4 linked regions of the Homo sapiens genome follow. The protein of the gene in region 1 interacts with the protein of each later gene in a biochemical or structural test. Each region holds a gene or a part of one and is shown in the gene's direction. Other genes may lie near its edges.

Region 1 (7,223 bases):
TTTACCATGTTCACCAGGCTAGGCTGGTCTCGAACTCCTGACGTCAGGTGATCCTCCCACCTCGGCCCCACAAAGTGCTGGGATTACAAGCATGAGCCACTGTGCCCAGCCTAAAATATATTCCTTCAAAGTTTTTTCTACTTTTAGAACCCTGGTAGTGGACTTCCACTGAAAGCATATCAACTTGTCAGATGGTCCAGTATAATTTTGGAACATTTATGACTTTAGGAGCTTGTCCCAAGTGTAACCTAATAGTTTTGAGGTACAAAAATTGGCCTTAAATTTTTTTTTTGAAAAATAATAAATGAAATGTTTACATTAAAACAATTTTGGCCAGGCGCGGTGGCTCACGCCTGTAATCCCAGCACTTTGGGAGGCCAAGGTGGGCGGATCACCAGGTCAGGAGATTGAGATCATCCTGGCTAACACGGTGAAACCCTGTCTCTACTAAAAATACAAAAAGTTAGCCGGGCGTTTGGGTCGGGCACCTGTAGTCCCAGCTACTCGGGAGGCTGAGGCAGGAGAATGGCGTGAACCCTGGAGGCGGAGCTTGCAGTCAGCTGAGATTGCGCCACTGCACTCCAGCCTGGGCGACAGAGCAAGACTCCGTCTCAAAAAACAAACAACAAACAAACAAAAAAAACAGTATTTTTGGCTCTTTAATACATAATACATGTTTTTTGTTTGTTTGTTTTTTTGAAATGGAGTCTCGCTCTATCACCCAGGCTGGAGTGCAGTGGTGCAATCTTGGCTTACTGCAACCTCCGCCTCCCTGGTTCAAGGGATTCTCCTGCCTCAGCCTCCTGAGTAGCTGGTATGACAGGCATGTATCACCATGCCCAGCTAATTTTTTCTATCTTCAGTAGAGACAGGCTTGTTGGCCAGGCTGGTCTCGAACTCCTGACCTCAAGTGATCTGCCCGCCTCAGCCTCCCAAAGTGCTGGGATTACAGGTGTGAGCCATCACGCCCGGCCCATAATACATGACACATGTTTTACCTTCCTGATTGTATTTATTTGCTAAGCTCTGAACAAAGCAAAAATGACCCACTTTAAAAAAATACACATTGCCTTGAAGAATCCAAAATACCTTAAAGATTCACCAATCTACTCATCTCTTACTCTGAAGGAATGCTCTTAAGAGAGTTTCACCAGCAGGACAGAGAATATTGGTAACAATATAAACTTTAGTAATGGATAAAAGGTACATTTATGTTGAATATATTTCTTTTCTTTCTTTTTTCTGTAGGAATTGAATGATCTGGCACGGGACCCTCCAGCACAGTGTTCAGCAGGTCCTGTTGGAGATGATAGTAAGTATTTAAAAGGAATAATGGAGTAATAGCATAACAGTGGTTATTTTGTGTGAAGAAACAATTATGGTATAGGGAAGAGGCAGTGTTTAACCCTTAGTGGCCCATGAAGGGAGCAACTCTATGTTCATCCCATTATCATCTGTGTTGTTCATTACATTTTGAATCTTCTGCCAGGTATTGGCTATGTAGTTGTTCTAGTCCTCTCCTACCTTACCTTCATCCCTTCTGGGTATTTTCCTGGAGTGAAATATTTAAGCTTTTACCTACAACTAGCTATTATTCTTGAGTAAGATAATACTAAGGATGATAGTATGTGTGTCTGTGTCTGACTTTCTACTGACTCATACTTGCGAAATCAGGTCTTTATTTATTTTTTTCTTGAGACAGGGTCTCGCTCTGTCAAGCCCGGGCTGGAGTGCAGTGGCGTGATCTCAGCTCACTGCAGCCTCTGCTTCCTGGGTTCAAGTGATTCTCGTGCCTCAGCCTCTCGAGTATCTGGGATTACAGGTGCATGCCACCACGCCTGATTAATTTTTGTATTTTTAGTAGATTCGTGGTTTCGCCATGTTGGCCAGGCTGGTCTCAAACTCCTGGCCTCAGGTGATCCGCCCGCTTTGGCCTCCCAAAGTGCTGGGATTATAGGCATGAACCACCACACCTGGCCAAAAGCAGGTCTTTATTTTTAATGTCCAATTTATCTGCTTAATTTTGTCTAAAAAGATGATCTTAATGCATACATTAGATGATAATTTCCTCTTTGTTCCACTTCATTTCAACATAATTTTTTCCCATATAGTGTCTTTTAACTTTTTTTAAAGAGGGGATATTTGAATGAGACTATGCTATGTGATGTAAAACTAATTCACAAAAAACTGTAACATTTGGTTGGGTGTGATGGCTCATGTCCCTAATCCCAGCACTTTAGGAGACCGAGGCAGGTGAATCAATTGAGCCCAGGAGTTCAAGACCAGCTTGGTCAACATGGTGAAGCCCTGTCTCTACAAAAAACACACAAAAAAATTAGCCGGGTATGTTGGTGCATGCTGGTAGTCCGAGCTACTTGGAAGGCTAAGGTGGGAGGTTTGCTTTAGCCTGAGCCTGGGTAGCAGAGTTTACAGTGAGCCAGGACCATGCCACTGCACTCCAGCTTGGGCGACAGAGTGAGACGCTGTCTCAAAAAATAAAAACAGGACGGGGCGTCATGGCTCATGCCTCTAATCCCAGCACTTTGAAAGGCCGAGGCGGGCGGATCACGAGGTCAGAGTTTGAGACCATCCTGGCCAAGATGGTGAAACCCCGCCTCTACTAAAAATAGAAAAAAATTTAGCCAGGCATGGTGACAGGCGCCTGTAATCCCACCTACTTGGGAGGTTGAGGCAGACAACTGCTTGAATCCAGGAGGCAGAGGTTGCAGTGAGCTGAGATTGTGCCACTGCACTCCAGCCTGCGTGACAGAGTGAGACTTACTCTCAAAAAAAAAAAAAAGAAAAAAAAATTTGTAACATTTAACAAATATTTTAAAGTATGCATACTTACAAACACTTGTGTAAATATGTAGATTCAGACCAAAATGAGTACATGGTTAAATTAGCTTATGTTTAATATTTTTTTGTTTGTTTGTTTTGTTTTTTAAGATGGAGTCTCACTCTGTTGCCCGTGCTGGAGTGCAGTGGCGTGACCTCGGCTCACTGCAAGCTCCGCCTCCTGGGTTCATGCCATTCTCCTGCCTCAGCCTTCCAAGTAGCTTGGATTACAGGCACCTGCCACCACACCTGGCTAGTTTTTGTATTTTTAGTAGAGACGGGGTTTCGCCATGTTGGCGAGGCTGGTCTTGAATTCCTGACCTTAGGTGATCCACCTGCCTTGGCCTCCCAAAGTTCTGGAATTACAGGCGTGAGCTACTGCGCCTGGCCTCAAATTGTTTTTTCCTGATTTTTCTTAATAATGTTGTGTCTGGGCCCAGCCCAGTGGCTCACACCTGTAATCTCAGTGCTTTGGGAGGCTGAGGCAGGCAGATCACTTGAGCCCAGGAGTGCGAGACCAGCCTGGGCAACATGGTGAAACCCTCTCTCTACAAAAAAATACAAAAATTAGCCTGGCCTGGTGGTGCATGCCTGTAGCCCCAGCTACTCAGGAGTTTAAGGTGGGAGGATCGCTTGAGTCCAGGCAGTTGAGGCTGTAGTGAGCCAAGGTTGCACAACTGCACTCCAGCCTGGGCAACGGGAGCGAGACTCTCTCAAAACAAAAACAACAACAACAACAACAAAAAACGGAAAAAAAGAATGTGTCTGGTCTGCTAAATCCTGAAGAATCAAAGCAAGGCCCTTTCACAAGGATTACTTTACAAATAGATAAATATTATAAATTATGAGTCTAAGTACATGTCATGAAAAAACTCATTTACATTATTATATTCTGACTTACCTAGCGTGAGTAACTATAGTATTTGGTACCAAACAAGGCAGGCTAAGTACTTAAACTATACAAAATAATTTAGTAAGTGCTGTTACACACGTTGTCTCATTTAAGCCTTACAACAACTCATTTAGGTGAGTGGAGTAGAAATTTTAAATTGTTTTAGAAAAAAGTCCCATGAGAATCTCATGGAGATTCTCCATGTGAACTCACTCTCAGGTTTTCTGATTCTAGTTTGTCCTTCCACTGTATCATATGGGCCACATACATCAGTGTACTCTTTCTATTCAGTTGGAAAAGTGCTTTTAGGTAAATTCCTCCAAGTTAAGAATGGCTGAAAATCTTTAATTAAAAGTGGTTGGAGTCAGGGGATTTGATTTCAATTTTGAAGTTTTCTTTAGCATGCTAAAGTAATTTGTCTTTGCTTTGCTTCTGCCATAGTTAGCACTATACATTTCTTTCTCAGGTTGAAAAATTGTTCCCTTTGGAGAGTTAAATAAAACTCTCCCACAGCCGAGTGCGATGGTTCACGTCTGTAATCCTAGCACTTTGGGAGGCCAGGAGTTCAAGACCAGCCTGGCCAACATGGTGAAACCCTGTCTCTACTAAAAATACAAAAATTAGCTGGGCGCGGTGGCGCCTGCCTATAATCCCAGCTACCTAGGAGGCTGAGGCAGGAGAATCGTTGGAACTGGGAGGCGGAGGTTGTGGTGAGCCGAGATCCCGCCACTACACTCCAGCCTGGGTGACAGAGTGAGACTCTGTCTCCGAAAAAAAAAAAAAAAAAAAAAAAGGCTGGGTGTGGTGTCTCACGTCTGTACGCCTGTAATGCCAGCACTTTGGGAGGCCGAGGCAGGTGGATTACCTGAGGCCAGGAATTCAATCAAGACCAGTCTGGCCTTGAACTCTGGTGAAACCCCGTCTACTAAAAATAAAAATACAAGAAATTAGCCAGGTGTGGTGGTGGGAGCTGTAATCCCATCTATTTGGGAGGCTGAGGCAGGAGAATCGCTTGAACCCGGGAGGCAGAGGCTGCAGTGAGCCGAGATCACGCCATTGCACTCCAGCCTGGGCAACAAGACTGAAACTCCGTCTCAAAAAAACAAACAAACTCTCCCAAAGCTAATCAGTAAGAGAAAAAAATAGATATTATTAGACTTCATCAAAATTAAATATATACAGGCTGCAAATGATGCCATCACGAAAGTGATAAAACATATAGAATGGAAGAAATTGTTGCAAGTCATATATCTCATAAGGGACATATATCCAGTATATTTTTAAAACTTTTTTTTTTTTTTTTTGAGACGGAATCTCGCTTTTGTCACCCAGGCTGGAGTGCAGTGGTGCGGTCTTGGCTCACTATAACCTTCGCCTCGTGGGTTCAAGCAGTTCTCCTGCCTCAGCCTCCCGAGTAGCTGATTATAGGCACGTGCCCCGCCGCCCAGCTAATTTTCGTATTTTTGGTAGAGATGGGTTTCACCATGTTGGCCAGGCTGGTCTTGAACTCCTGACCTCAAGTGATCCGCCCACCTCTACCTCCCAAAGCGCTGGAATTACAGGCATGAGCCACCCCACCCAGCTGTTTAAAAACTCCTATAACTCAGTATAAAAATAAATAACCAATTAAAAAATAGTCAAAGGATCCGAGTAGACATTTCTCCAGATAAGATGGCTAGTAAGCACACGAAAAGATGCTCAACATCATTTGTCATTAGGGAAATACAAATCAAAACTACAGTGAAGAAGAGCCAGGCACAGTGGCTCATGCCTGTAATCCCAGCTACTGGGGAGACTGAGACTGGAGGATCACTTGAGGCCAGGAGTTTTATGCCAGCCTGGGCAACAAAGCAAGACCCCATCTTTAAAACTAAAAATTAGCTGGGAGTGGTGGCTCATGGCTGTAGTCCCACCTACTCACAAGGCTGAGGCAGGAGGAACACCTGAGCCCAGAAGTTTGAGGCTGCAGTGAGCTATGATTTGGCCACTATACTCTAGCTTGGATGACAGGTTGAGACCCAGTCTCTAAAAAAAAAAAAAAAACAAGTATTGATCAGATCTTTCTGATGAACCCCACATAAGAGTACATCAAGTATGATTGGATAGCTAAATGTCCTTTTGTCATTTTATTTTTGTTATAAGGAGTCAGAATTTAATCTTAGAAGAAGGAAGAGAGAAACTGTTGGCCTTTTGAAACTTTTGAGCTCCTTTTGACTATCCTGGTACCCAAATCCCTCAGTACCACATGTTATTGATATTTAGTGTAAAAATAAAGTGGAGACTTGTGCTTTATTTTAAAACATCCAGATTTTAATGTTGATATTTAGTATAAAAATAAAGTAGAGATCTGTGCTTTATTTTAAAACATCCAGATTTTAATGTACTAGTAAATTTTTTTTCACTTTCCTGCAAAGATCTGGTAAGCAGGAAGAAATGTACATCCTGAAAGAAGTAAGCAGCCGGGCCCGGTGGCTCACGCCTGTAATCCCAACACTTTGGGAGGCCGAGGCGGGCGGATCACGAGGTCAGGAGATTGAGACCATCCTGGCTAACATGGTGAAACCCCGTCTCTACTAAAAATACAAAAAATTAGCCGGGCTTGGTGGCAGGTGCCTGTAGTCCCAGCTATTCAGGAGGCTGAGGCAGGAGAATGGCGTGAACCCGGGAGGTGGAGCTTGCAGTGAGCCAAGATCACGCCACTGCACTCCAGCCTGTGTGACAGAGCAAGACTCTGTCTCAAAAAAAAAAAAAAAAAAAAAAAGAAAAGAAAGAAACAAATAAGCTGAAGATTTAATGGCCATATATCTGTTTCCTTCTCTCTTCCCTCCCTTCCTTTCCCCCTCCTCCTCCCCTCCCTCTCTCCCTCCCTTCTCCCTCGTCTTCCTCTCCTCTGGTCTTCTTTAAAGGCAGGGGCTCACTCTGTTGCCCAGGCTAGAGTGCAGTGGCGCGATTGCAGCTCACTGAAGCCTCAAACTCCTGGGCTCAAGGGATCCTCCCACCTCAGCCTCCTGAGTAGCTGGGACTATGGGTACATGCCCCTACACCCCTGGCTAATTTAAAAAAAAAAATTGTAGCAATAGGGTCTCACCATGTTTCCTACGCTGGTCTTGAAATCCTGGGCTCAAGTGATCCTCCTGCCTCTGCCTCCCAAAGCCCTGTGATTGCAGCTGCGAGCTACCGCACCCAGCTTTCTTTTCTTTTGAACAGTTGGTAAATGTGACTCTCTTGAGATCTGTGCATTCAAGTGTAGGTCTCTGGGGATTCAGTCTCATACTATCAAATATTCTCACTGTCCCCTGCTGTTTTGTTTGTTTGTTTGTTTTTTTGAGATGGAGTCTCACTCTGTTGCCCGGGCTGGAGTGCAGTGGCGCAATCTCGGCTCACTGAAACCTCTGCGTCCCAGGTTCAAGCAATTCTCCTGTCTCCGCCTCCCAAGTAGCTGGGATTACAGGCATGCACCACCACGACCGACTAATTTTTTGTATTTTTAGTA
Region 2 (7,223 bases), on another chromosome or scaffold:
ACGGTGGCTCACGCCTGTAATCCCAACACTTTGGAAGACTGAAGTGGGTGGATCACAAGGTCAGGAGTTCAAGACCAGCCTGGCCAAGATGGTGAAACCCCATCTCTACTAAAAATACAAACAAAATTAGCCAGGCATGCTGCCAGGCGCCTGTAATCCCAACTACTCGGGAGGCTGAGACAGAGAATTGCTTGAACCCAGGAGGCGGAGGTTGCAGTGAGCCAAGATCGCACCACTGCACTCCAGCCTTGGCGACAGAGCGAGACTCTGTCTCAAAAAAAAAAAAAAAAAAAAAGAATTTGCCCTAGATTAACCGATGAAGTTACTAAGCTAAGCCTGACTTTTGGTCCTTGGGCCAAGTGAGAGTGGTCAGCTTCACCTGCTGGGAGGAGCAGAGGTTTCAGGCTAGTCCATCCCAAAGAGAAAGGCCTGGGGCTGGGCATGCATGGTGCGTTCTCCCAGATGGGGCACAGAGGCATAGCCGTGTGGAAGTGGGATGCCGTGGAATAGAGGTATGCACATGCGCACACATACATAACCCCCCAGGTACATTTGTAAAAACCATACCTCCCCACTCAGAGCAGAATTCTGGAAGGGTGGTTACTGGCTTTCCCTCCTGAGGGAGGTGTTGGTCCTGGTGCTCTTTGCAGTGTATACTTCAGGATTGTTTTAGTTTGGGGTAAGCCTATAACATTAGCAGTCATACTAAAGTGTAGAGGGATACAACCTTACTTTCCTCTTAATCTTAATGCTTGTTGAAATACTTTCTTTTGAAGCTGGAGATGAAATTGTGGACCTCACTTGTGAATCTTTAGAGCCTGTGGTGGTTGATCTGACTCACAATGACTCTGTTGTGGTAAGTGTTGGAGTGTGAGAGTCGGCTGTTTCTTGGGTATGGGTCCCTGGCCAGTGCCAGCATCTGACAGCCTTGGTCACAGACTCCAAGTCAAGGTTACAGCTTATGCTAAAGAAGTTCATGCATCTTGTGGAATTGAGCTTTTAGAAAGAAAATAAACAGTAACAATAATAATAACAAAGAAGTTCATGCATTCAGTGACGAGAGCCCAAAATGAAAAATGTTTCTGGAAAATCATTTGTTATAGCCTTGTCGCCTATGGAGTAGGTCTGTGTAACCTGACCTTGCCACACCTGGGCACAAAAGTGGTTTGGGGAGAATCTCAAGACCCCCACATCTGTCTTCAGTCCCTGATTCCACAGTTTACACCAGCTGTGTGACCTTGGGCATGTGACTTAGCCTCATTCACTTTCCATGAAATGGGGACAGGTCACTCATGTCAGCAGGGCATGGTGTAAGACATCTTACAACAGATGCCGTGTTTGAGTGCCTGACACCTAGAATGGTGCCCAGTCACTGTGAGTGTATGCCCTCCCAACTGAAAGGAAAGGGAACGTTGGCTCAGCACTGCCCATGGGAAATCTCTCAAGTTCCAAAAGTGCCTGCTACTTAGCATGGCCTCAGGGGATGCAGGCTCCCTGCATTGCCACCTGATGCCTGCTGCGTCCTGATGCCAGGGAGGCTGGAGCCCAGGAGGCTGCCTGTGTCCCTGTCTCATGGCACCGGTTACAGACTGCAGGGGACGTGTGTATACGTGTCCTGCCTGCCAGGAGGGAGGCCTTGTCTGGTCAGAGGACACACGGAGAAGCTATTTCTGATAGACCTGTTTCATGGTGCATGCAGGTCTGGGAATCTGGTCAGCATCTTAAGGGCAAGTTTGCCTCTGGAAGATGCCACTTGAGTGTTTTCTGACAGTGTGCTCGGAACACAGGTCGGGGTGGGGGCACACTTGGCAGCATTGGCAGTGGGGTGGTAAGTGCTGCTGAGGAGGACTGTGGGGTGTGGGGGCTGCTAGTAGCTGAGTCTTCGCCTTGGCCCTGGGCTCACTGGTGTTGGGGTTATCCTGTTTGGCTGATGCCTGGGTATCTGAATAGGGACACCCCATAGGTGTTGCTTCTTAGTTGTGCTGAGAACTTCAGAATAGGGTTATACTGAGAAGTTTCAAGACTTCAATGCAAAGAAAAGGACAGGGATGGAAAACCATCTGAGATAAGCAGCAGTGGGTTTAGTTGTACGTGGTCCCTGCTTAGGTCTCATTAACGTGTTTTCTGAGGTACATACACACATATGACTTTGCTTATCATCCCTGTGTCCTGCATGGAGTTCTGGAAAGATAACTAATTTGGTATATTAGCTGGCAGCTACAGCACAGTCACTGATTTTTCCCCTCTTTCTTTTTCCCAGCTGACACCTTGGTTTCACCAGTTGCTCATTAAAGCTGGAAAGTGGTGTCTGCAGAAGTTTTTTTGTTTTTTGTTTTTTGTTTTTCTTGAATACTCAGTGTTCACCACAGTCTTCTTGGCCTTCTCTCTGCCAGACCCTGAGGAGAGAGCTAGGATTTTGACTGCAGGAAGACAATGATTGATTGGCTTTTGTTGGCTGACAAACCAACATCATTTCCCCTTTCACACTTGTGTTTTCTTTTGCTTTAGAAACAGGGTCTCAGGCTGGGCGCGGTGGCTCACGCCTGTAATCTCAGCACTTTGGGAGGCCGAGGTGGGCGGACCACAAGGTCAGGAGTTTGACATCAGCCTGGCCAACATGGTGAAACCCTGTCTCTACTAAAAATACAAAAATTATGCGGACGCCTGTAGTCCCAGCTATTCAGGAGGCTAAGGCAGGAGAATCGCTTGAACCCAGGAATCAGAGGTTGCAGTGAGCCGAGATCACGTCACTGCACTCCAGCCCGGGCAACAGAGTGAGACTCCATCTCAAAAAAAAAAAAAAATACAAAAATTAGCCAGGTGTGATGATGCATACCTGTAATCCCAGCTACTCGGGAGGCTAAGGCAGGAGAATTACTTGAACCCAGGAGGCGGAGGTTGCAGTGAGCCAAGATCGCGCCACTGCACTCAAGCCTGGGCGACAGAGCAAGACTCTGTCTCAAAAAAAAAAAAAAAGAAAAGAAAAGAAACAGGGTCTCACTCTGTTGCCCAGGCTAGAGAGCAGTGGCATGATCACACCTTACTGCAGCCTCCAACCCCTGAGCTTAAGTGATTCTCCCACATTATCCTCCTGAGTAGCTGAGACTACAGGTGCATGCCACCATACACTACTAAATTTGGGTCGGGTGGTGGTGGTGATTTTTTAATATTTTTGTAGAGACAGGGTCTCACTGTGATGCCCAGGCTGGTCTTGAACTCCTGGGCTCAAGCAGTCACCCACCTCAGCCTCCCAAAGCACTAGGATTACAGGTGTGAGCCACCACACTGGCCAGCTTTGTTTTGTTTTGATGACTAAGCTGCTCTTGCTAAAAGGGCTTCCTCTCTGAACTTCCCTACCTTTCTTCTGTTTCCCTGGGCTAGGGCTCCATGTTGGCAGTCCTACTCCCAATTAACCTGGGGCTGTCTGGTTAACCTTTATAAGATCTGCAGTCATTGGGAGACCCGGGGACCAGGAATATTGGTGTTGAGGGAGCTACCCTGGAAAGTGGATGGGTGGCCAGAGGGAGAGCTGATAGGTAAAAGGGAGACGCTCCTGGCTTGGGAAGCAGGAGTCCTAGGTTCTGGTCTCTCAGATCTACTGGTCAGTTTGATCAGTGGATTTATCTCACACTGTCCTCAGTGTTGTCAGCCACAAAATAACTGCTTTGGACTTGATAGCTCTTGCTAATCATTCTCTACTTATTTTTGATTTTAATAAGTCCAAGTGCCAGTTTATGAATTTACACTGAGACATATACTTGAGTTTGGAATTCTGCCTCTGAGCAGATCTGTTTGGGAGGCCTCTAATGCTAGTCACTGAGGATAAGGGGCATCTGTAGATGGATCGTGTGTTCAGGGTGACCCTAGGCTGCACCTGCAGGAGAGTATAAAATGGATAAATGTATTCATTCTGGAAGCGGGGTAACCTTCCTTACCAGTTCCGCCAGGACCTGTCGAATAGTTTGAGTGCACTGCTTTAGCTCCAGTAGCTCTGTACCTGTAATATAGGAATCCCTGGATACCAGGATCCAGAGGTAGCCGTCAGAACATCAGGGAACCCTCTAAACTTTGTGCCTGTGGTCCCAGCTACTGGGAAGGCTGAGCAAGGAGGATCACTTGAACTCAGGAGTTCAAGGCAAGCCTGGGCAACATAGTGAGACCCTGTCTTCTTCAAAAAAGAAAAAAAGACTGGAAACTTTGCATACAGGTGTGCACATTCTTCCAACTTTCGAAGGAATTCAAAGCCCCTGAAAAATGAAGGGAAATGAAAAATGCGGTAAGATGCAGTGAGAGACTTTGTTCATCTCATTTGATTAGTTTCCCTCAAAATGAACTTTCATTTTTGGCATTGCATAGCCTAGAAAAGGCATCACTGCTGTGTCCCGAGGTGTGAGTGTCTTTGATTTTTACTGGATAAATGCCAGACTTTTCTAAAGAGGGAGCAGTTCACATTCATGCCAGTGTTTGAGGTTCTCCACATCCTCATGGCCACTTTTAATTTTAGCCATTCTGATGCTTGTCCAGTGGTGTCTCATTGTGGTTTTAATTTGTGCTTTTTTATTACAAATGGGATCAAACACCTTTTCATGTTTATTTTTCTCTTTTGTGAAGTGCCTGTTTAAAACTTCTTTGTTTTATAGCTTTTATTTATTTATTTATTTATTTATTTATTTATTTATTTATTTTGAGACAGAGTCTTGCACTGTTACCCAGGCTGGAGTGCAGTGGCGTGATCTTGGCTCACTGTAAGCTCTGCCTCCTGGGTTCACGCCATTCTCCTGCCTCAGCCTCCAGAGTAGCTGGGACTACAGGCAGCCGCCACCATGCCCGGCTCATTTTTTGTATTTTTTTTTTTTTTTTTTTTTGAGACAGAGTCTCACTCTGTCACCCAGGCTGGAGTGCAGTGGCACGATCTCAGTTCACTCAGTTCACCTCCGCCTCCCGGGTTCAAGCAATTCTCCTGCCTCAGCCTATTGAGTAGCTGGGACTACAGGCACGCACCACCATGCCAGGCTAATTTTTTATATTTTTAGTAGAGATGGGGTTTCACCATGTTGCCCAGGCTGTTCTTGAACTCCTGACCTCAGGTGATCCACTCGCCTTGGCCTCCCAAAGTGCTGGGATTATAAGCATGAGCCGCTGCACCTGGCTGTTACATAGCTTTTTTTTATGCAACTTTCGTATATAAACTTTTTTCATCATAAATAGGACTTTTCACTTTAGTACCTAGCTCATCCCAGTAGCTTTTCCAGAACTGCTGTCTTCACCACAAAGCTCCCTACGTTTTCCCAATGCAAACCTGAGTGTTTTTAGCATTTTAACTTTCCTCACAGAGAAGACATCGTGGAGCGGATAAATAGATTTGCAGGCATTTCTGTGTCTTCTCCAGTGCTGTCTGGAATAATTTTCTCCACCACTTCTTTCAAGTTATTTGTCTGCATCTCTCTTTTTTTTTTTTTTTGAGATGGAGTCTCGCTCTGTTGCCCAAGCTGGAGTACAGTGGTGCGATCTTGGCTCACTGCCAGCTCCGCCTCCTGGGTTCACACCATTCTCCTGCCTCAGCCTCCAGAGTAGCTGGGACTACAGGTGCCCGCCACCACACCCGGCTAATTTTTTGTATTTTTAGTAGAGACGGGGTTTCACCATGTTAGCCAGGATGGTCTCGATCTCCTGACCTCGTGATCCGCCCGCCTCGGCCTCCCAAAGTGCTGGGATTATAGGTGTGAGCCACCGCGCCCGGCCTTGGGTCATGATTTCCATCATCTTAGACCTGTTGGTGCTGAGGTTTTCTTTAACCATTGGTAGTCTAGACATCAACATGAGCTTCAATCATGGTCTGCCTTTTTTTTTTTTTTTTTTTTTTTTTTTTTTGAGACGGTTTCTCACTGTCACTCAGGCTAGAATGCAGTAGCGTGATCTCAGCTCACTGCAGCCTCTGCCTCCTGGGTAGCTGGGACTATAGGCATGCACCACCACGCCCAGCTAATTTTTGTATTTTTTGTAGAGACAGGATTTTGCCATGTTGTCCAGGCTGGTCTCGAACTCCTGACCTCAAGTGATCCACCCGGGTGGTCTGCCATTTTTAAATCACACAACACATTTTGTCATGGGTAAGACCCACGCATGGAAGCTAGGCAGTTTTTGCCCTGAACATCTTGAACAGTCAGCTTGAGTTTTCTGCAAGTCAGCAAGCCTTCAAACATAACCCTTGAGGCCATCAGATACAGTTTTGGTTCCTTGAGTCCTATAAACTTTTTAAATCGTTGAAAAAATTGAACTAGAACAAAGCAAACCATTTGTTGTTTTCTTTTTCCCCCCTGAGACAGAGTCTCGCTCTGTCGCCCACGCTGGAGTGCAGTGGCACAGTCTTGGCTCACTGCAACCTCCATCTCCAGGGTGCCAGCGATTCCCATGTCTCAGCCTCCTGAGTAGCTGGGATTACAGGTACACACCACCACGGCCAGCTAATTTTTGTATTTTTAGGAGAGACGGTTTTGCCATGTTGACCAGGCTGGTCTTGAACTCCTGGCCTCAAGTGATATACCTGACTCAGCCTCCCAAAGTGCTAGGATTACAGACGTGAGCCACCATGTCCGGCCTCCTTGGTTGCTTTTTAACAGCAAATAATCTTTTTTTTTTTTCCAAGTTGTGTGCTTTCTCCAAATTTGTTTTTTTTCTTCTTCTTCTTCTTTTTTTTTCCCTTGAAACAGGGTCTCACTTTGTTACCCAGGCTGGAGTGCAGTGGTGCCATCACGGCTCACTGCAGCCTGTACCTTCTGGGCTCAATTGAGCTTCCTGCCTCAGCCTCCTAAGTAGCTGGGACTATAGGGGTATGTCACCATCCCTGGCTGATTTTTTATATTTTTTTGGAGAGACAAGGTCTTACCGTATTGCCCAGGGTGGTCTCAAACTCCTGGGCTCAAGTGATCCTCCCACCTTGGTTTCCCAAAGTGCTGGGATTGTAGTTGTGAGCCACTGAGCCTGACCTTGGGTCACTTTTCATGAGCATTTTCAGTATGCCAGTCTCTGCTCTGGCTAGAAGCAATGCAGTGGTAGAAAAGAGACTGGCAACTCTCTTTAAGGAATCGAGATTCTTTAAGGGGAAGGTTATTGAAAATGTTACTTAGGCTGTTTTTCTTAAATTTCCAAAGATTGTCTCTTAGTAAGGTTGATTTTTCTGGAATCTTTTTTTGGTCTGTTTCTATAATGTATGAATAAGTCAC
Region 3 (7,223 bases), on another chromosome or scaffold:
TTTCATTTGCAGAGAGCTTGCTATTTGGAGAGATTGTAGGAACAGTAGGTCTAAAGATACATTCTAGGAAAACAGAATTTTGAGGTAGTTGCAAATTATGTGAGATGTCTTTTTATCAAGTTACATACCGGTCAAATTAGCCAAGGTTAAGTTTGTAAGAGAAGCTGAAAGAATGCATATAGTGTTCACAAAGTAAAGGAGATGAGGTACGTAGGTACCACCAAGAAGTAACCAGGTAATAAAGAAAGAAACGTGTAAATTTGTTTCCGAAATGTTACGTACCAGGAAAAGTAGGGGAAAAAGCCTCATGAGACAGATGAGAAATGGTAAAACTGATTGACATAGGAAACTGTATGCACAATGATAAATCATAAAGCATAGAGGGTTGAGTGGGCACTCTGTTACTTGAAATTTGTGATTTATAAACAGTGTTATATGCAATAGATTTATGAGTAAAGACTGTCTTTATGTCTGTTCTTTCAATTCTGTCTTTACCTTTAATACATAATTTTGGTCATTGTTTTTGAAGAATTGCTTTCGTGTAAGGATCATCTCTTAATGGCAATGTAGTTAAGATCTTTGATCTGTTTTGTGTTTAAGAATACTGTACAGGTAAGATCCCATAGACTATTGGAGCAGTTATTAGAACATAGTAGATAATACCAAATTTAGTGAGTCTCAGTTTCTATTCAGTGGGTCAAGAAAAAAAATAGCTTTTAAACTCTTTTGATTTCCTATAGGTTAGCTACACAAACTGCAATTAGGAGGTAGTGACATTTATTAGAAAACTTTAAAAATTATCTTTTTCCTTTTGCTGAAGAGGGATGATGAATGTCTCCATTATAAGGATAAAGTTGTTTAAAATGGGGACAGTTTATACCTTATTTCTTCTTCTTTTATAGGTTTTAAAACGACCAGAATATTTTGGGAAGTTTGGTAAAATACATAAAGTTGTCATCAATAATAGCACATCATATGCAGGCTCACAGGTAACTAATTTTAGGGATTTTTGCTTTTCCTCCCTATGGTCTGGGCTTGACCTGGGCTGTTCCAAAGGAAACTTTGCTCTCTCTGATTAGAAAGCTTGAGGGACAAGGACTTAAGCAATGTAGTGACCTCTGTTGGTGGGGTGGGGGATTTTTTGCTGCTTATTTGACCCTTCTAGGACTTAACAATTAAGAGGGAAATAGTAAAACAAACATTTAGTGATGGAGTGAAAGGGAGGGGGAGGTGAGTCTGTTATCAGGCAATGTGATAAATAGATGAGGATTCGATAGTGATTTCTAATCTGTAATATTTTCAGATATTGAAAACTTAATAGTGTCTTTGTTATGCTGCTGTTATCAGATAGAATAGTTTTCCAGATTGCATTTATTTTTGAGAATGTAATTTGACATAGTCTTTAAGTCTTATTTTTTAATCTAAATTTTAATTTTTTTATAACCTTGACGAGCCTGTCAAATGACTGTCTAAAAAAATAAATCCCAAGCCAAAGTAATATTTTATTCACATATATTACAGTATTCTTAAAATCAGATAAAATTCATTGAGTATTATTACTTTCAAATGAGCTAGTTTAGTGTTTAATCAAAACTGCCACTACTACTACTAATTATTGTCATTAGTAATAGTAGTAGTCAGGGTCTTTAGAATTCCCTAGGTTGCAGTAGAATTTTTTTAGTATTGTTTAATTTTTAACTAATAACAGTGGAATGGGATGTTTTCACTTTAGGGTCCAAGTGCCAGTGCTTATGTAACCTATATCCGGTCAGAAGACGCTCTCAGAGCCATACAGTGTGTCAACAATGTGGTAGTAGATGGCAGAACACTTAAGGTAATATAGTCCTCTTGATTCTTTTTTTTTTTTTTAAGGAAGACGAGATAAAATATAGTAAGTAGAGGAGAACTGAGCATTTATATATTAAATTTGACAGTTAATTTGAAGAGTCTGTCTTAGGGTCCATACCATCTATTATAGCTAATTTGTTTACTGCTGGTTTCTGTAGGGTCCTCTTTTACCAGATAGGAATAAACACATTCATTATCGGGGATAATCTTTTAAAATATCGCATTTTTACATATATCTTATTTTGTGAAAATAGTACCATTATTTTCTTCAGAAATAGGTAGTCCTTAAATATATGGACATTGATTCCAGTTTCAGTGAAGAGTCCCACTAAGCAAAGCTTTACTGTTAGTGGAAGGAGGATGGCATAATTAGAAAAAGGAATTTGCCTTCTTATGTGTCTAACCACTCATAACATGGAACAGATTTTTTTGTCTATCTCCTCTCCTTATATCTAGGGAAGATTTGGGTGTCCAAGTTTTGGAAACCATAGACAGATGTTTCCTTTAGTTCTTCCAAATGAGCCTCATCTATAATAAATCCTGCTAATAAGAGTTTAGTTCTCTAGTATTTGCAGCCATACTTTTTGTTTTGTCATGTTTGTGCCTCATTTTAGGTGACTTGAAAACACTAAACATGGAGATTCTCATTGTGTTGTCAGTTCACATTGAGTCTTCTTTTCCTTTACCCCTCTTCCTCCTGCAGGCATCTCTAGGTACAACAAAATACTGCAGTTACTTCTTAAAGAATATGCAGTGTCCAAAACCTGACTGCATGTATCTTCATGAATTGGGGGATGAGGCGGCCAGCTTCACAAAAGAGGAAATGCAGGTAGTAAAGTCATGTGAATTATCAACTTTGCAGAAAAGGGAGTACTTTTTTTTTTATTAGTTAACATTGCAAAAGCAAAAACTAAGGATTTGATTTTGTAAAAACTGATATTACTTTAAAGTAGCATTTGCCAAATGAAGTGTTTAATGGAAGGTCAGTTCTGCAGGATATTGTTACAATAAAAATGTGTCTGTGGTCAACTAAGTTTGAAATGCTAGATTAATGAAGATGAACAGGTTTCTTTGCTTTAAGACTTTTCAGAGTCCTTAATATGCTAATACAGATCCACGAAGGGAATTTACAACCAGAACTTAGTTGACCAGGAAAACACTTTGGGAAATGCTATTTTAAGGGGAATGTCAACAAAATGAAAGCTAAGTGGGATATTGTAATTATTTGTTAAACCAATCTATACTCTTTACAGAGCTTGCTAGAAAATAATACTCTGTCAAATGATGCTGATAAACTAATATTATTTTTACAAAATTATTCTCCCCATGCAAGTGTCCACTGAGTCAGTATCCTGTAAAGGGTGAATTGAAGGCTTAATATCCTATGTTCTTTTTTACATTTCCTCTTCTCCTGTCTCCTTTCAATTTGTAGTATAAACATGCCTTAACAAGTAAAAATGTTGACCATACGACATATTAAATGAGGATTATACCAAAGCACAATGCTGCACTTCCCTATTGTAGATGAGGACTTCAGATTGTTGCTGTGGACTTTTCAGGAATACTTCTCATTTAGAAGGTGGGGGGCATTCATTGCTACCTTTCATTCTCCAGGTCAAACTAGAGAAAGTCTGGTAGGGGCTCCTTTAAGAAAAGATTGTTAAATGGAGTATTACCTTTTTTGACTTGGAGCTAGTACAGATTAAATCCCATTATAATAAATACATCAGAGTTTTCTTGATAGTATGGTCTTTATGATTCAAAAACAATGTTAAAATAAGGTCTATCTGATATTTAATAAGGACAGATGACTTAACTGATTTCTTAATGCTTTTTTTGTTTGTTTTTTGGATGAAACCTTCTTGAATGAAATCTAAGGTAGAACCATTTCAAAATTTCAAACTAAATTTTAATTAGTAGAGGGTATACTTTATTCATATTTCCTATCAATTTCTGTCTATCAGAATTTACAAGTCCCACCCAGTTGATCTCATTTAAAGTAATATTAAACAATAAAATAAAATGTATGGGCTGTCCTTTGGAACTTGTTTGTAATGGGATTTAACCTGTCTTTATGAACTGCCCCTGTAGAGTCATTTTAATATCAAGTTGAGCTCTTTGTGGCTTTCCACAGATATTAGTGAAAGCCGTATCTCCTGAAGTATTGATTCCAGAAATAATTTTCAAGACTTTTCATGTTTTAAAAATGTAAATTTCACATCTAATGTATTTTTAAAAATAATTTAAAACTAATTTCATAATGTTGTCCTGAATTTATCTTGCTCTTCTTTAGCTGAGTTTAAAATTACTTTAAAAGGGGATTTTTTGTTGTTGTTGTTAAAACACTTTCTTGATGTAGGAAAGAAATTTGAATAAATTTTATGGCAAAAATCAGAAAATCTTTCCTTGTTACTGCGTAACTCAAAATTTAGTGCCATAGGAAATATTTATAGGTCCAATAGAAACAAGCAAGTGGCCTCTCAGAACAGGGAACGATGCATTGTGCAGTATATATGACACAATTATGCTCAGTTAAGTGCAATTGCCCTCACTTGTTATTGTTTTGATTTGTTCCGTTTTGGTTTTGTTGTATAACATCTATTTAGACCATAATTTAAAAAAATTAACATCCCTGAAGGTAAGTAAAACTATTCTTCCAGTCTAGATATACATGCAAATAGTAAAATGTTACTCAAAGTAAGTTCATTATCATTTATTTTTGTGTCTAATTAGCTTCCACAGGCAATCTTTGCCTAATTTTTCCCATAATATTTGTGACATTGCCTTTTGATGTACACCTACCCAGCTAGAGTAAGCATAGCATTCTTTTGTGTATAGAGCAGAGGTTGGCAAACTTTTTCTGTAAAGGCCAGTTAGTAAATATTTTAGGGTTTCTGAGCTATGTATGTAGTCTTCTGTCACAACTACTTTACTCTGCCTCTGTTGCACTACTACATCCTGCCTTTGTAGCAGAATGGCAGCCAAATACAATATGTAAATGAATGGGCATGACCATGTTCCAGTAAAACTTTATTTATAAAAACAGGCAACTGGCTGTAAATTGCTGACCCTGGGTCTAGAGTTTAAAATACATTAATTTTTATTTTACTTTTGATAACCATAGAAGAAAAGAGAAAGCAAAAACTAATTCATGGAAGTTTTACTTAGTGTCAAGATAATGAAGAATATAGTAAAACTGTTCATCTATGTATTACTTCAAGTGCTAATCTCCAAATTAAAAAGGAGACTGATGAATTTTGGCTGATTTTCAGAAAACTCAGTGTTACAAGACTTAATTCTTACATGAAAGACTTGGAAGTAGGTTTAAAGTGGACCTTACACTTTTTGAGCTAGCAAAAATGTTCTTCCCTTAATATGCTTTTCTGTACAATAAATGGGTTGATGAAATGCCTTAATTTAATTTATCAGATATATATCATATAATTTTGTTGGAATGACTTTCATTGATCTAGAAGTTTTGTGATATCCTCACAGGTTTCTCTTACTTGTTTTATTTAAAAATTTATTTAAAATTTATTTAATATTTTATTTTTTAAAAATATTATTTATTTTATTTAAAATATATTTAATAATTCAGAAGATTATTCAGTATTTTATACCAGCCATTTTGTGAATCCCACTGCAGTTTTAATTTCTTCTTTCGTTAGGCGGGTAAACACCAAGAATATGAACAGAAGCTACTTCAAGAATTATATAAATTAAATCCCAATTTTCTTCAGCTATCTACGGGTTCAGTTGATAAAAATAAGAACAAAGTGACACCACTGCAGAGGTACGATACGTAAGTATTGATATTGATAGTCAGACATCTTACCTTCTTATCAGTTGATCTTCTCTTTTCATTTTAGATCTTTTTCAGGCAAAATCCTTGTTGACAAGGTCTGTCATTTATGCAGAATTGTTTAGCTGTATGGGAAATGTTGAGTCACAATTTCTGGGTTTGAATGCTTGCTGCCTACTTTTCCCTGGTAACACTTCAGACTAGCTTTTTGATGGGTTCACCTTTTGTGGTGATTTGCAGACTACTCTGAGCCCAGGGAATACTTTCCTTATTAAAGAGAAAATTAAGGGATTTTAGGTTTTAAAAGGCTCTGATTACCTAATTGAGGTCCCCCTTGATATAATTAGGGGGAAAATACTATAAAAGGGAAAGTGGGTGTTATCTGAAGGAAGCCTTGTGTGTTGGGGACACAGATATTCAAGGATATCTAGTTCCAGGAATCACTAAAGTCATTTAAATCCTGTAAATGAACAGGGAGTATCCCATATTCAGAATCTTACTTATCTTAGGAGACCAGTCATCTCCTATCTTCCATCTCATTATGGTTTTGGGTAAACTATATTGTGTCAATGCTTAAATAAATTTATGGTCTTCAGTAGAGAGTCTCATTCTGATATGTTGATCTTCTTATCTTAGATTATATTTTGTTATGGCCTGTCAGAAAATCATATTAATAAATATAATTTGGGAATTTTATTCTATCCTGAACTTTCTTTAAATTTGATGTGTTAGGTTTTTTGTTCTTTTTTATTTGATAAGTTTAACTTTTATCAAATGAATTTTAAAAGTAAATGTTGTAATTAATTTATGTTGATGATCTTTTTTTAAAATTCCAAAGTTAAATTTGTTTGAATGTTGTCCTAATGTCTAGGTGTTAAATATTATAGCCCAGTGTCTGTTTGGTGCTAAAATGATGTAAGAACTATTTTCAAACATAGCTAATAATAACTACATGGATTATTGTTTGAGTCCATTTCTTCAAAAACACATTCTTTAAATTTTGAAGTCTGTGTTTATTCATTTTAAGAGTAAAGATTATTTAAATTATTAAAAACTAAATTAGACACATATATATGTGTATGTAAATATAAATAAATATAAAATAGGCCACAAAGCGAAACATAAAGTTACTGTATAGTAAACTATGTAAAATTTGTTTATATCAAAGCTAAGAATAAAAGCTAAGTCAAAACAGATCTTTCTGGTTTGACAAGCTTTGATCTTTTCCTTTAATCTTTTGTACCCACCCTTTTCTAGCCCTGTATGGTTATTTTATGGCAAACCATATGCTATTACTTATCTTATTCGTTGCCACCTCTGTAGTGCTTGGTATAAGAATGAAGTTATTGTAGTAAACAGTGGTTTATTTTAGATGCTTTTAACATTTATGCACATCATTGTTTGCATTAAAAATGTTGTCATTCTAATTTAAGTCAAATTCTGGGTTTATAGCCCTTGGTGATTTCAGAGCAAAAATTTAAAATTTAGATGATCTCTTTGAGATAACATTTGTTGTCTTCTGAATATAAAACTATATGTTTTTATTGAAGGAAATGTGAAAAATTTATGAAAG
Region 4 (8,137 bases), on another chromosome or scaffold:
CTTGTAAGGCAGGCCTGGTGGTGACAAAAATCTCTCAGCATTTGCTTGTCTATAAAGGTTTGTATTTCTTCTTTGCTTCTGAAGCTTAGTTTGGCTGGATATGAAATTCTGGGCTGAAAATTCTTTTCTTTAAGAATGTTGATATTGGCACCCACTCTCTTCTGGCTTGTAGGGTTTCTGCAGAGAGATCCGCTGTTAGTCTGTTGGGCTTCCCTGTGTGGACAGACACTTCTCTCTGGCTGCCCTTAACATTTTTTCCTTCATTTCAACCTTGGTGAATCTGACTATTGTGTCTTAAGATTGCTCTTCTTGATGAGTATCTTTGTGGTGTTCTCTGTATTTCCCAAATTTGAATGTTGGCCTGTCTTGCTAGGTTGGGGAAGTTCTCCTGGACAGTATCATGAAGACTGTTTTCCAACTTGGTTCCATTCTCCCTGTCACTTTCAGGTACACCAATCAAATGGAGGTTTGGTCTTTTCACATAGTCCATATTTCTTGGAGGTTTTGCTTGTTCCTTTTCATTCTTTTTTCTCTAATCTTGTCTTGATGCTTTATTTCATTAAGTTGATCTTCAATCTCTGATATCCTTTCTTCCTCTTGATCAATTCGGCTATTGATTCTTGTGTATGCTTCATGAAGTTCTCATGCTATGTTTTTCAACTCCATCAGGTCATTTATCTTCTTCTCTAAACTGATGATTCTAGTTAGCAATTCCTCTAACCTTTTTTCAAGTTTCTTAGCTTCCTTGCATTGGGTTAGAACATGCTCCTTTAGCACAGAGGAGTTTCTTATTACCCACCTTCTGAAGCCTACTTCTGTCAATTCATCAAACTCATTTTCCATCCAGTTTTGTTCCCTTGCTGGCAAGGAGTTGTGATTCTTTGCAGGAGAAGAGGTGTGCTGTTTTTTGGAATTTTCAGCCTTTTTGCACTGGTTTTTCCTCATCTTCATGGATTTATCTACCTTTGGTCTTTGATATTGGTGACCTCTGGATGGGGTTTTTGTGTGGACATTCTTTTTGTTGAGGTTGACGCTATTGCTTTCTGTTTGTTAGTTTTCCTTCTAACAGGTCCCTCTGCTACAGGTCTGCTGGAGGTCCACTCCAGACCCTGTTTGCCTGGGTATCACCAGCAGAGGCTGCAGAACAGCAAAGATTGCTGCCTGTTCCTTCCTCTGGAAGCTTTGTCCCAGAGGGGCACCCGCCAGATGCCAACCAGAGCTCTCCTGTATGAGGTGTCTGTTGACCCCTCCTGGGAAGTGTCTCCCAGTCTGGAGGCACAGGGGTCAGGGACCCACTTGAGGAGGCAGTCTGTGCCTTATCAGAGCTCAAGCACTGTCCTGGGAGATCCACTGCTCTCTTCAGAGCTGGCAAGCAAGAATGTTTAAGGCTGTTGAAGCTGTGCTCACCGCCACCCCTTCCCCCAGATGCTCTGTCCCAGGGAGATGGGAGTTTTAGCTATAAGCCCCTGACTGGGGCTGCTGCCTTTCTTTCAAGATGTCATGCCCAGAGAGGAGGAATCTAGAGAGGCAGTCTGGCTACAGCAGGTTTGCGAAGCTTTGGTGGGCTCCACCCAATTCGAACTTCCCAGCAGTTTTGTTTACACTGTGAGGGGAAAACCGCCTACTCAAGCCTCAGTAATGGTGGATGCCCCTCACTCCACCAAGCTCAAGCATCTCAGGTCAATTTCAGATTGCTGCACTGGCAGCAAGAATTTCAAACCCGTGGATCTTAGCTTGCTGGGCTCCATGGGGGTGGGATCCACTGAGCTAGACCACTTGGCTCCCTGGCTTCAGCCCCCTTTCCAAGGGAGTGAACAGTTCTGTCTTGCTGGTGTTCCAGACGCCACTGGGGCATGAAAAATCCTGCCGCTAGCTCAGTGTCTGCCCAAACAGCCACCCAGTTTTGTGCTTCAAACCCAGGGTCCTGGTGGTGTAGGCATCCAAGGGAATCTCCTGGTCCGTGGGTTGCATAGACCATGGGAAAAGCATAGTATCTGGGCTGGATAGCACCATTCCATCAGGTCCTTTAAGGACTTCTCTGCATTGGTTATTCTGACCTAAAACCACAAAAACCCTAGAAGAAAACCTAGGCAATACCATTCAGGACATAGGCATGGGCAAGGACTACATGTCTTAAACACCAAAAGCAATGGCAACAAAAGACAAAATTGACAAATGGGATCTAATTAAAGAGCTTCTGCACAGCAAAAGAAACTACCATCAGAGTGAATGGGCAACCTATAGAATAGGAGAAAAATTTTGCAATTTACTCATCTGACAAAGGGCTAATATCCAGAATCTACAAAGATCTCAAACAAATTTACAAGAAAAAAACAACCCCATCAAAAAGTGGGCAAAGGATATGAACAGACACTTCTCAAAAGAAGATATTTATGCAGCCAACAGACACATGGAAAAATGCTCATCATCACTGGCCATCAGAGAAATGCAAATCAAAACCACAATGAGATACTATCTCACAGCAGTTAGAATGGCGATCATTAAAAAGTCAGGAAACAATGGGTGATAGACAGGATATGGAGAAACAGGAGCACTTTTACACTGTTGGTGGGACTGTCAACGAGTTCATCCATTGTGGAAGACAGTATGGTGATTCCTCAAGGATCTAGAACTAGAAATACCATTTGACCCAGCCATCCCATTACTGGGTATATATCCAAAAGATTATAAATCATACTGATATAAAGACACATGCACACATATGTTTATTGTGGCACTATTCACAATAGCAAAGACTTGGAACCAACCCAAATGTCCAACAATGATAGACTGGATGAAGAAAATGTGGCACATATACACCATGGAATGCTATGCAGCCATAAAAAAGGATGAGCTCATGTCCTTTGTAGGGACATGGATGAAAGTGGAAACCATCATTCTCAGAAAACTATTGCAAGGACAAGAAAACCAAACACCGCATGTTCTCACTCATAGGTGGGAATTGAACAATGAGAACACATGGACACAGGAAGGGGAACATCACACACTGAGGCCTGTCCTGGGGTGGGGGGAGGGGGGAGGGATAGCATCAGGAGATATATCCAATGTAAATGAGTTAATGGGTGCAGCACACCAACATGGCACGTGTATACATATGTAACAAACCTGCATGTTGTGCACATGTACCCTAGAACTTAAAGTATAATTTAAAAAAAAATCTAAGGCCTCAAACTATGAAACTACTACAAGAAAATATTGGGGAAACTCTCCAGGACATTGGACTGGGCAAAAATTTCTTTCAAATATTCCATAAGCACAGGCAACCAAAGCAAAACTGGACAAATGAGATCACATCAAGTTAAAAAGCTTCTGCACAGCAAAGGAAACAATGAAGTAGAGAGATAACCCACAGAATTGGAGTAAATATTTGCAAACTATCCATCTGACAAGGGATTAATAACCAGAATATACAAAGAACTCAAACAACTCTATAGGAAAAAAATATAATAATCTGATTCAAAAATGGACAAACGATCTGAATAGACATTCCTCAGAAGAAGACATACAAGTGGCAAATGGATATATGAAAATGTGTTCAACACCACTGATCATCAGAGAAATGCAAATCAAAACTACGAGATATTATCTCACCTCAGTTAAAATGTCTTTTAACCAAAAGAAAGGCAATAACAAATGCTGGCAAGGATATGTAGAAAAGGGAACCCTCATACACTGTCAATGGGAATGGAAATTAGTACAAACACTATGGCAAACAATTTGAAGGTTCCTCAAAAAAAAAAAAAAACCTGAAAATAGAGCTACCATGTAATCTAGCAATCCTACTGGATACTGCTAGGTATATACCCAGAAGAAATACTGTTAGGTATATATCCAAGAGAAAGGAAATCAGTATATCAAAGAGATATCTGCACTCCCATGTTTATCGCAGCACTATTCACAATAGCCAAGATTTGGAAGCAACGTAAGTGTCCATCAACAGATAAATGGATAAGGAAAGTGTGGTACACATACACAATGGAGCACTATTCAGCCATAAAAAGAAGGAGAACCTTTCATTTGCTACAAGATGGATGGAATTGGGGATTATTATGTTAAGTAAAATAAACCAAACACAGGCAAACAAACAAATTGTTATGTTCTCACTTATTTGTGGGAGTTAAAAATTAAAACAATCCAACTCATGAAGATAGAGAGGATGATGGTTACCAAAGGCTGGGAAGGGTAGTGGGGAATGATTAATGGGTTCAAAAATACATGAGAGAGAATGAATAAGATCTAGTATTTTATAGCATAACAAGGTGAATACAGTCAATGATAATTTATCATTTTAAAATAACTAAAAGCATATAACTGGATTGTATATAACACAAATGATAAGTGCTTGAGGTGATGGATAGATACCCCACTTACCCTGATATGATTATTACGGATTGTATGCTCTACCTGTATCAAAATATTTCATGTACCCCACAAATATATACACCTACTATAGACACACAAGATTGAAAATTAAAAAAATTACTTTGGTAAATTTTATGTTCTATATTTTTACGATTAAAAATAAAAATAATATAACCTGAGAATGTCCCTAGCTCAGTGACAAGAACACAGTTGGTTGTCAAATGTCAATTTCCTTCTCACCACTCACTGGTGGGACACTCACCTTGGGGTCATGCGAAATAAATCACTCACCTGCAGGCGTTAAAAAATATTAGTCACATCAGTCACATGAAAATAATTAGCTTCTGGAAGTAAGCAGATGGTGGCACGCGAGGAAGAGCACCGGCCACTCTTCTCTGCATCAAAACTTCCTTAAAAGCATCTTCCAGACATGGACATAGCGTCTAGGTGTGGAGTGATGACCAGTGTCAAAGAAAGCAGCCCGGACTCCCCCGTCTTGTAGATATTTTACCAAATCAGATAATGAAGACATGGGAGGGAGCGCGCAACCAGGACCACGGGCTACTGAGTTTCCACTCCTTCCCAGTCTCAGAGAAGCCTCCTGGGCATGCAGAGCCTCTGAAGCCTCCCCCAGCTCAACTCTGACTTCTCTTCTCAGCCGCATTTCTCCACACACCCTTTCAAGGCTCTGCTCCTCCCACTGCTCCTCCCTCACTCCTCCCACGGCTCCTCCTCCTCCCTCCCCTTTCCTCTCAGACTTGCTTCTGAGCGGAAACTGAAAGTGAAATAGGGAGCTGGCTACCAGCGTTGAGTCCCCTGTAAAGGTGAGTGAACCCCACTAGATCAAGGGACCCCTGCCCTCCTAGGGGACCTCTCTCCCCTGCCCCAGGGTTGCAGAGCCCCTTCCAGTCTCCATCCTTGAGCCGGTCCCATTTGCCCCTTCTCCCACCAGGGATCCCTCAACCCAAGACCAGCTGCGCTTCCGGTGCTGGCCCCCTGCTTGGGAGGAGGCTGGGGTGTGGACCTGACTGCCGAGTTACCCAGAAGGGGAAGGGGCCCGGCTGCCCCCTACCTGGGAGGAGGCTGGGTTGTGGACGTGACTGTGGAGTTACCCAGAAGGGGAAGGGGCCCGGCTGCCCCCATGCTGGCACCTGACCTAGGATGACGGCTGGGTGTGGCTGGGATAGCCAGGACTACAGCCTAGCCAGGAGGGTAGGGAGCCCAGTGTCGGGGAGGTCTGCAATTCTGGAGACTCCCAGGTCCAAAAGTCCTCCAGAGGTGAGAGGGGCAGGCTGTTTAGGATGTTCAACCAGAAATGTATAGGCCTTCAGAATTATTCTTTGTCCTAGAATAAGTGTTGTCAGGAACTAAACTAAGTTTGGAGCAGCTGAGAAAAGAGCCCAGGGAGTGCTGGCCACGGTTCCTGTTACTCTGTGTGTATACATACATATACACCTACATACATATATGCAACTGACTTCCGCCGTTATAGGAGGGATTAATGAAGATATATTCAAAGCATGAAGTATCTCTGGCACATGGAAGGTACATGGTAAAAAGTAGCTATAATTTCTCAGCAACATGGAGGCCTGTTGGTACCCGACAGGAGATGGATGAGCACTGAGGGTTTAAGCAGGAATGGACATGATGAGAGTAGAACTGTCAACAGCTTTATGAGGTTCTTGCCAATTTTCATTCCCTCTTTTAGGGACTCAGTTTCTCCTTCTGTCTCACTGGATCAATGGACCAAACAATGGAGGAGTTCTTGTTATTCAGAACAGGAATAAACTTATTCAACAAACTGTTTGATCGGTGCAAAAGTAATTACTGTTTTTGACATTAATTGTTTTGCCATTAATTTTATGCCTTGTTTTGTTTTGTTTTGTTTTTGAGAGGGAGTCTCGCCGTGTCACCCAGGCTGGAGTGCAATGGCACAATCTTGGCTCACTGCAACCTCTGCCTCCCAGGTTCAAGCAATTCTCCTGCCTCAGCCTCCCAAGTAGCTGGGATTACAGGTGCCCACCACCACTCCCAGCTAATTTTTGTATTTTTAGTAGAGACAGGGTTTTACCATATTGGTCAGGCTGGTCTTGAACTCCTGACCTAAGGTGATCCACCCACCTCGGCCTCCCAAAGTGCTGGGATTACAGGTGTGAGCCACCGTGCCTGACCCATTATTTTTATTCTTATTTTTTATTTTCCTTTGCATCATTTTGTTTTTCTTTTTTTAGTATATTTTTAATTTTTGTGGGCACATAGTAGGTATATTTATGGGTATATGGAATATTGTGATACAGGTATACAATGTGTAATAATCACATCAGGGTAAGTGGGGCATCTATCACCTCAAGCATTGATCATCTGTAATACAAACTATGCAATTATACTCTTATTTTTAATGTACAATTAAATTATTGACTATAGTCACCCTGTTGTACTATCAAATACTAGATCTAATTCACTCCACTTTTGTACCCATTAACCATCCCATCTTCTCCCCCACACACAGACCCTCCCTATTACTCTTCCCAGCCTCTGGTAACCATCTTTCTATTATCTAACTCCATGAGTTCAATTGTTTTAATTTTTAGCTTCTACAAATGAGTGAGACCATACAATGTTTGTGTTTCTGTGCCTGGCTTATTTCACCTAACATAATGACCTCCAGTTCCATTCATGTTGTTGTGAATGACAGGATCTCATTATATTTTATGACTGAACAGTACTCCATTGTGTATACATACCACATTTTCTTTATCCATATATCTGTTGATGGACTCTTAGATTGCTTCCAAATCTTGGCTATTGTGAAACGTGCTGCAGTAAACATGGAAGTGTGGATATCTCTTTGATATACTGATTTCCTTTCTTTGGGGTATATGCTAGCAGTGGGATTGATGGATCATATGGTAGCTCTATCTTCAGTATTTTGAAGAACCTCCAAACTGTTCTCTGTAGTGATTGTACTAATTTACCTTCCCACCAACAGCATATGAGTGTACCCTTTTCTCCACACCCTCACCAGCATTTGTTATAGCCTGTCTTTTGGAGAAAAGACATTTTAACTGAGATGAGATTATATCTCATTGTAGTTTTGATTTGCATTTTTCTGATAATCAATGATGTTGAGCAACTGTTCATATGCCTGTTTGTCATTTGTATGACTTCTTTTGAGAAATGTCTGTTCAGATCTTTTGTCCATTTTTGAGTCAGATTATTATTTTTTTTCCTATAGAGTTGTTTGAGCTCCTTATATATTCTGGTTATTCATCCCTTGTCAGATGGATAGTTTACAAATATTTACTCCAATTCTGTGGGCTGTCTCTTCACTTTGTGGATTGTTTCTTTTGCTGTGCAGCACCTTTTCAACATGATGTGATCCCATTTGTCCAAGTTTGCTTTGGCTGCCTGTGCTTGTGGGATATTTGAAAGAAATCTTTGCCCAGTCCAATGTCCTAGAGAGTTTTCCCAATGTTTTCTTATAATAGTTTCATAGTTTGAGGCCTTAGATTTAAGTCTTTAATCCATTTTGATTTGATTTCTGTATACGGTGAGACATAGGAGTGTAGTTTCATTCTTCTGCATGTGGATATCCAGTTTTCCCAGCAGCATTTATTGAAGAGACTGTCCTTTCCTCACTGTATGTTCTTGGTAGCTTTGTTGAAAATGTGCTCACTGTGGATGTACAGATTTGTTTCTGGGTTCTTTATTCTACTGGTCTATGTGTCTGTTTTTATGCCAGTACCATGCTGTT

What was found.
Region 2: the proteins of UBE2D2 (region 1) and RNF4 form a complex in vitro, tested with the Homo sapiens proteins (8 studies listed by BioGRID, with this or other methods).
Region 3: the proteins of UBE2D2 (region 1) and CNOT4 form a complex in vitro, tested with the Homo sapiens proteins (5 studies listed by BioGRID, with this or other methods).
Region 4: the proteins of UBE2D2 (region 1) and TRIM21 form a complex in vitro, tested with the Homo sapiens proteins (10 studies listed by BioGRID).

The regions. Positions count from the first base shown.
Region 1 is NC_000005.10:139,599,124-139,606,346, forward strand, and holds part of UBE2D2 (ubiquitin-conjugating enzyme E2 D2), read left to right. Parts: intron 1-1,248; coding exon 1,249-1,312; intron 1,313-7,223.
Region 2 is NC_000004.12:2,499,883-2,507,105, forward strand, and holds part of RNF4 (E3 ubiquitin-protein ligase RNF4), read left to right. Parts: intron 1-776; coding exon 777-856; intron 857-7,223. UniProt on the Homo sapiens protein: E3 ubiquitin-protein ligase which binds polysumoylated chains covalently attached to proteins and mediates 'Lys-6'-, 'Lys-11'-, 'Lys-48'- and 'Lys-63'-linked polyubiquitination of those substrates and their subsequent targeting to the proteasome for degradation.
Region 3 is NC_000007.14:135,408,942-135,416,164, reverse strand, and holds part of CNOT4 (CCR4-NOT transcription complex subunit 4), read left to right. Parts: intron 1-902; coding exon 903-989; intron 990-1,732; coding exon 1,733-1,834; intron 1,835-2,551; coding exon 2,552-2,677; intron 2,678-5,516; coding exon 5,517-5,650; intron 5,651-7,223. UniProt on the Homo sapiens protein: Has E3 ubiquitin ligase activity, promoting ubiquitination and degradation of target proteins. Involved in activation of the JAK/STAT pathway. Catalyzes ubiquitination of methylated RBM15.
Region 4 is NC_000011.10:4,390,703-4,398,839, reverse strand, and holds the start of TRIM21 (E3 ubiquitin-protein ligase TRIM21), read left to right. Parts: upstream 1-5,137; 5' UTR 5,138-5,207; intron 5,208-8,137. UniProt on the Homo sapiens protein: E3 ubiquitin-protein ligase whose activity is dependent on E2 enzymes, UBE2D1, UBE2D2, UBE2E1 and UBE2E2.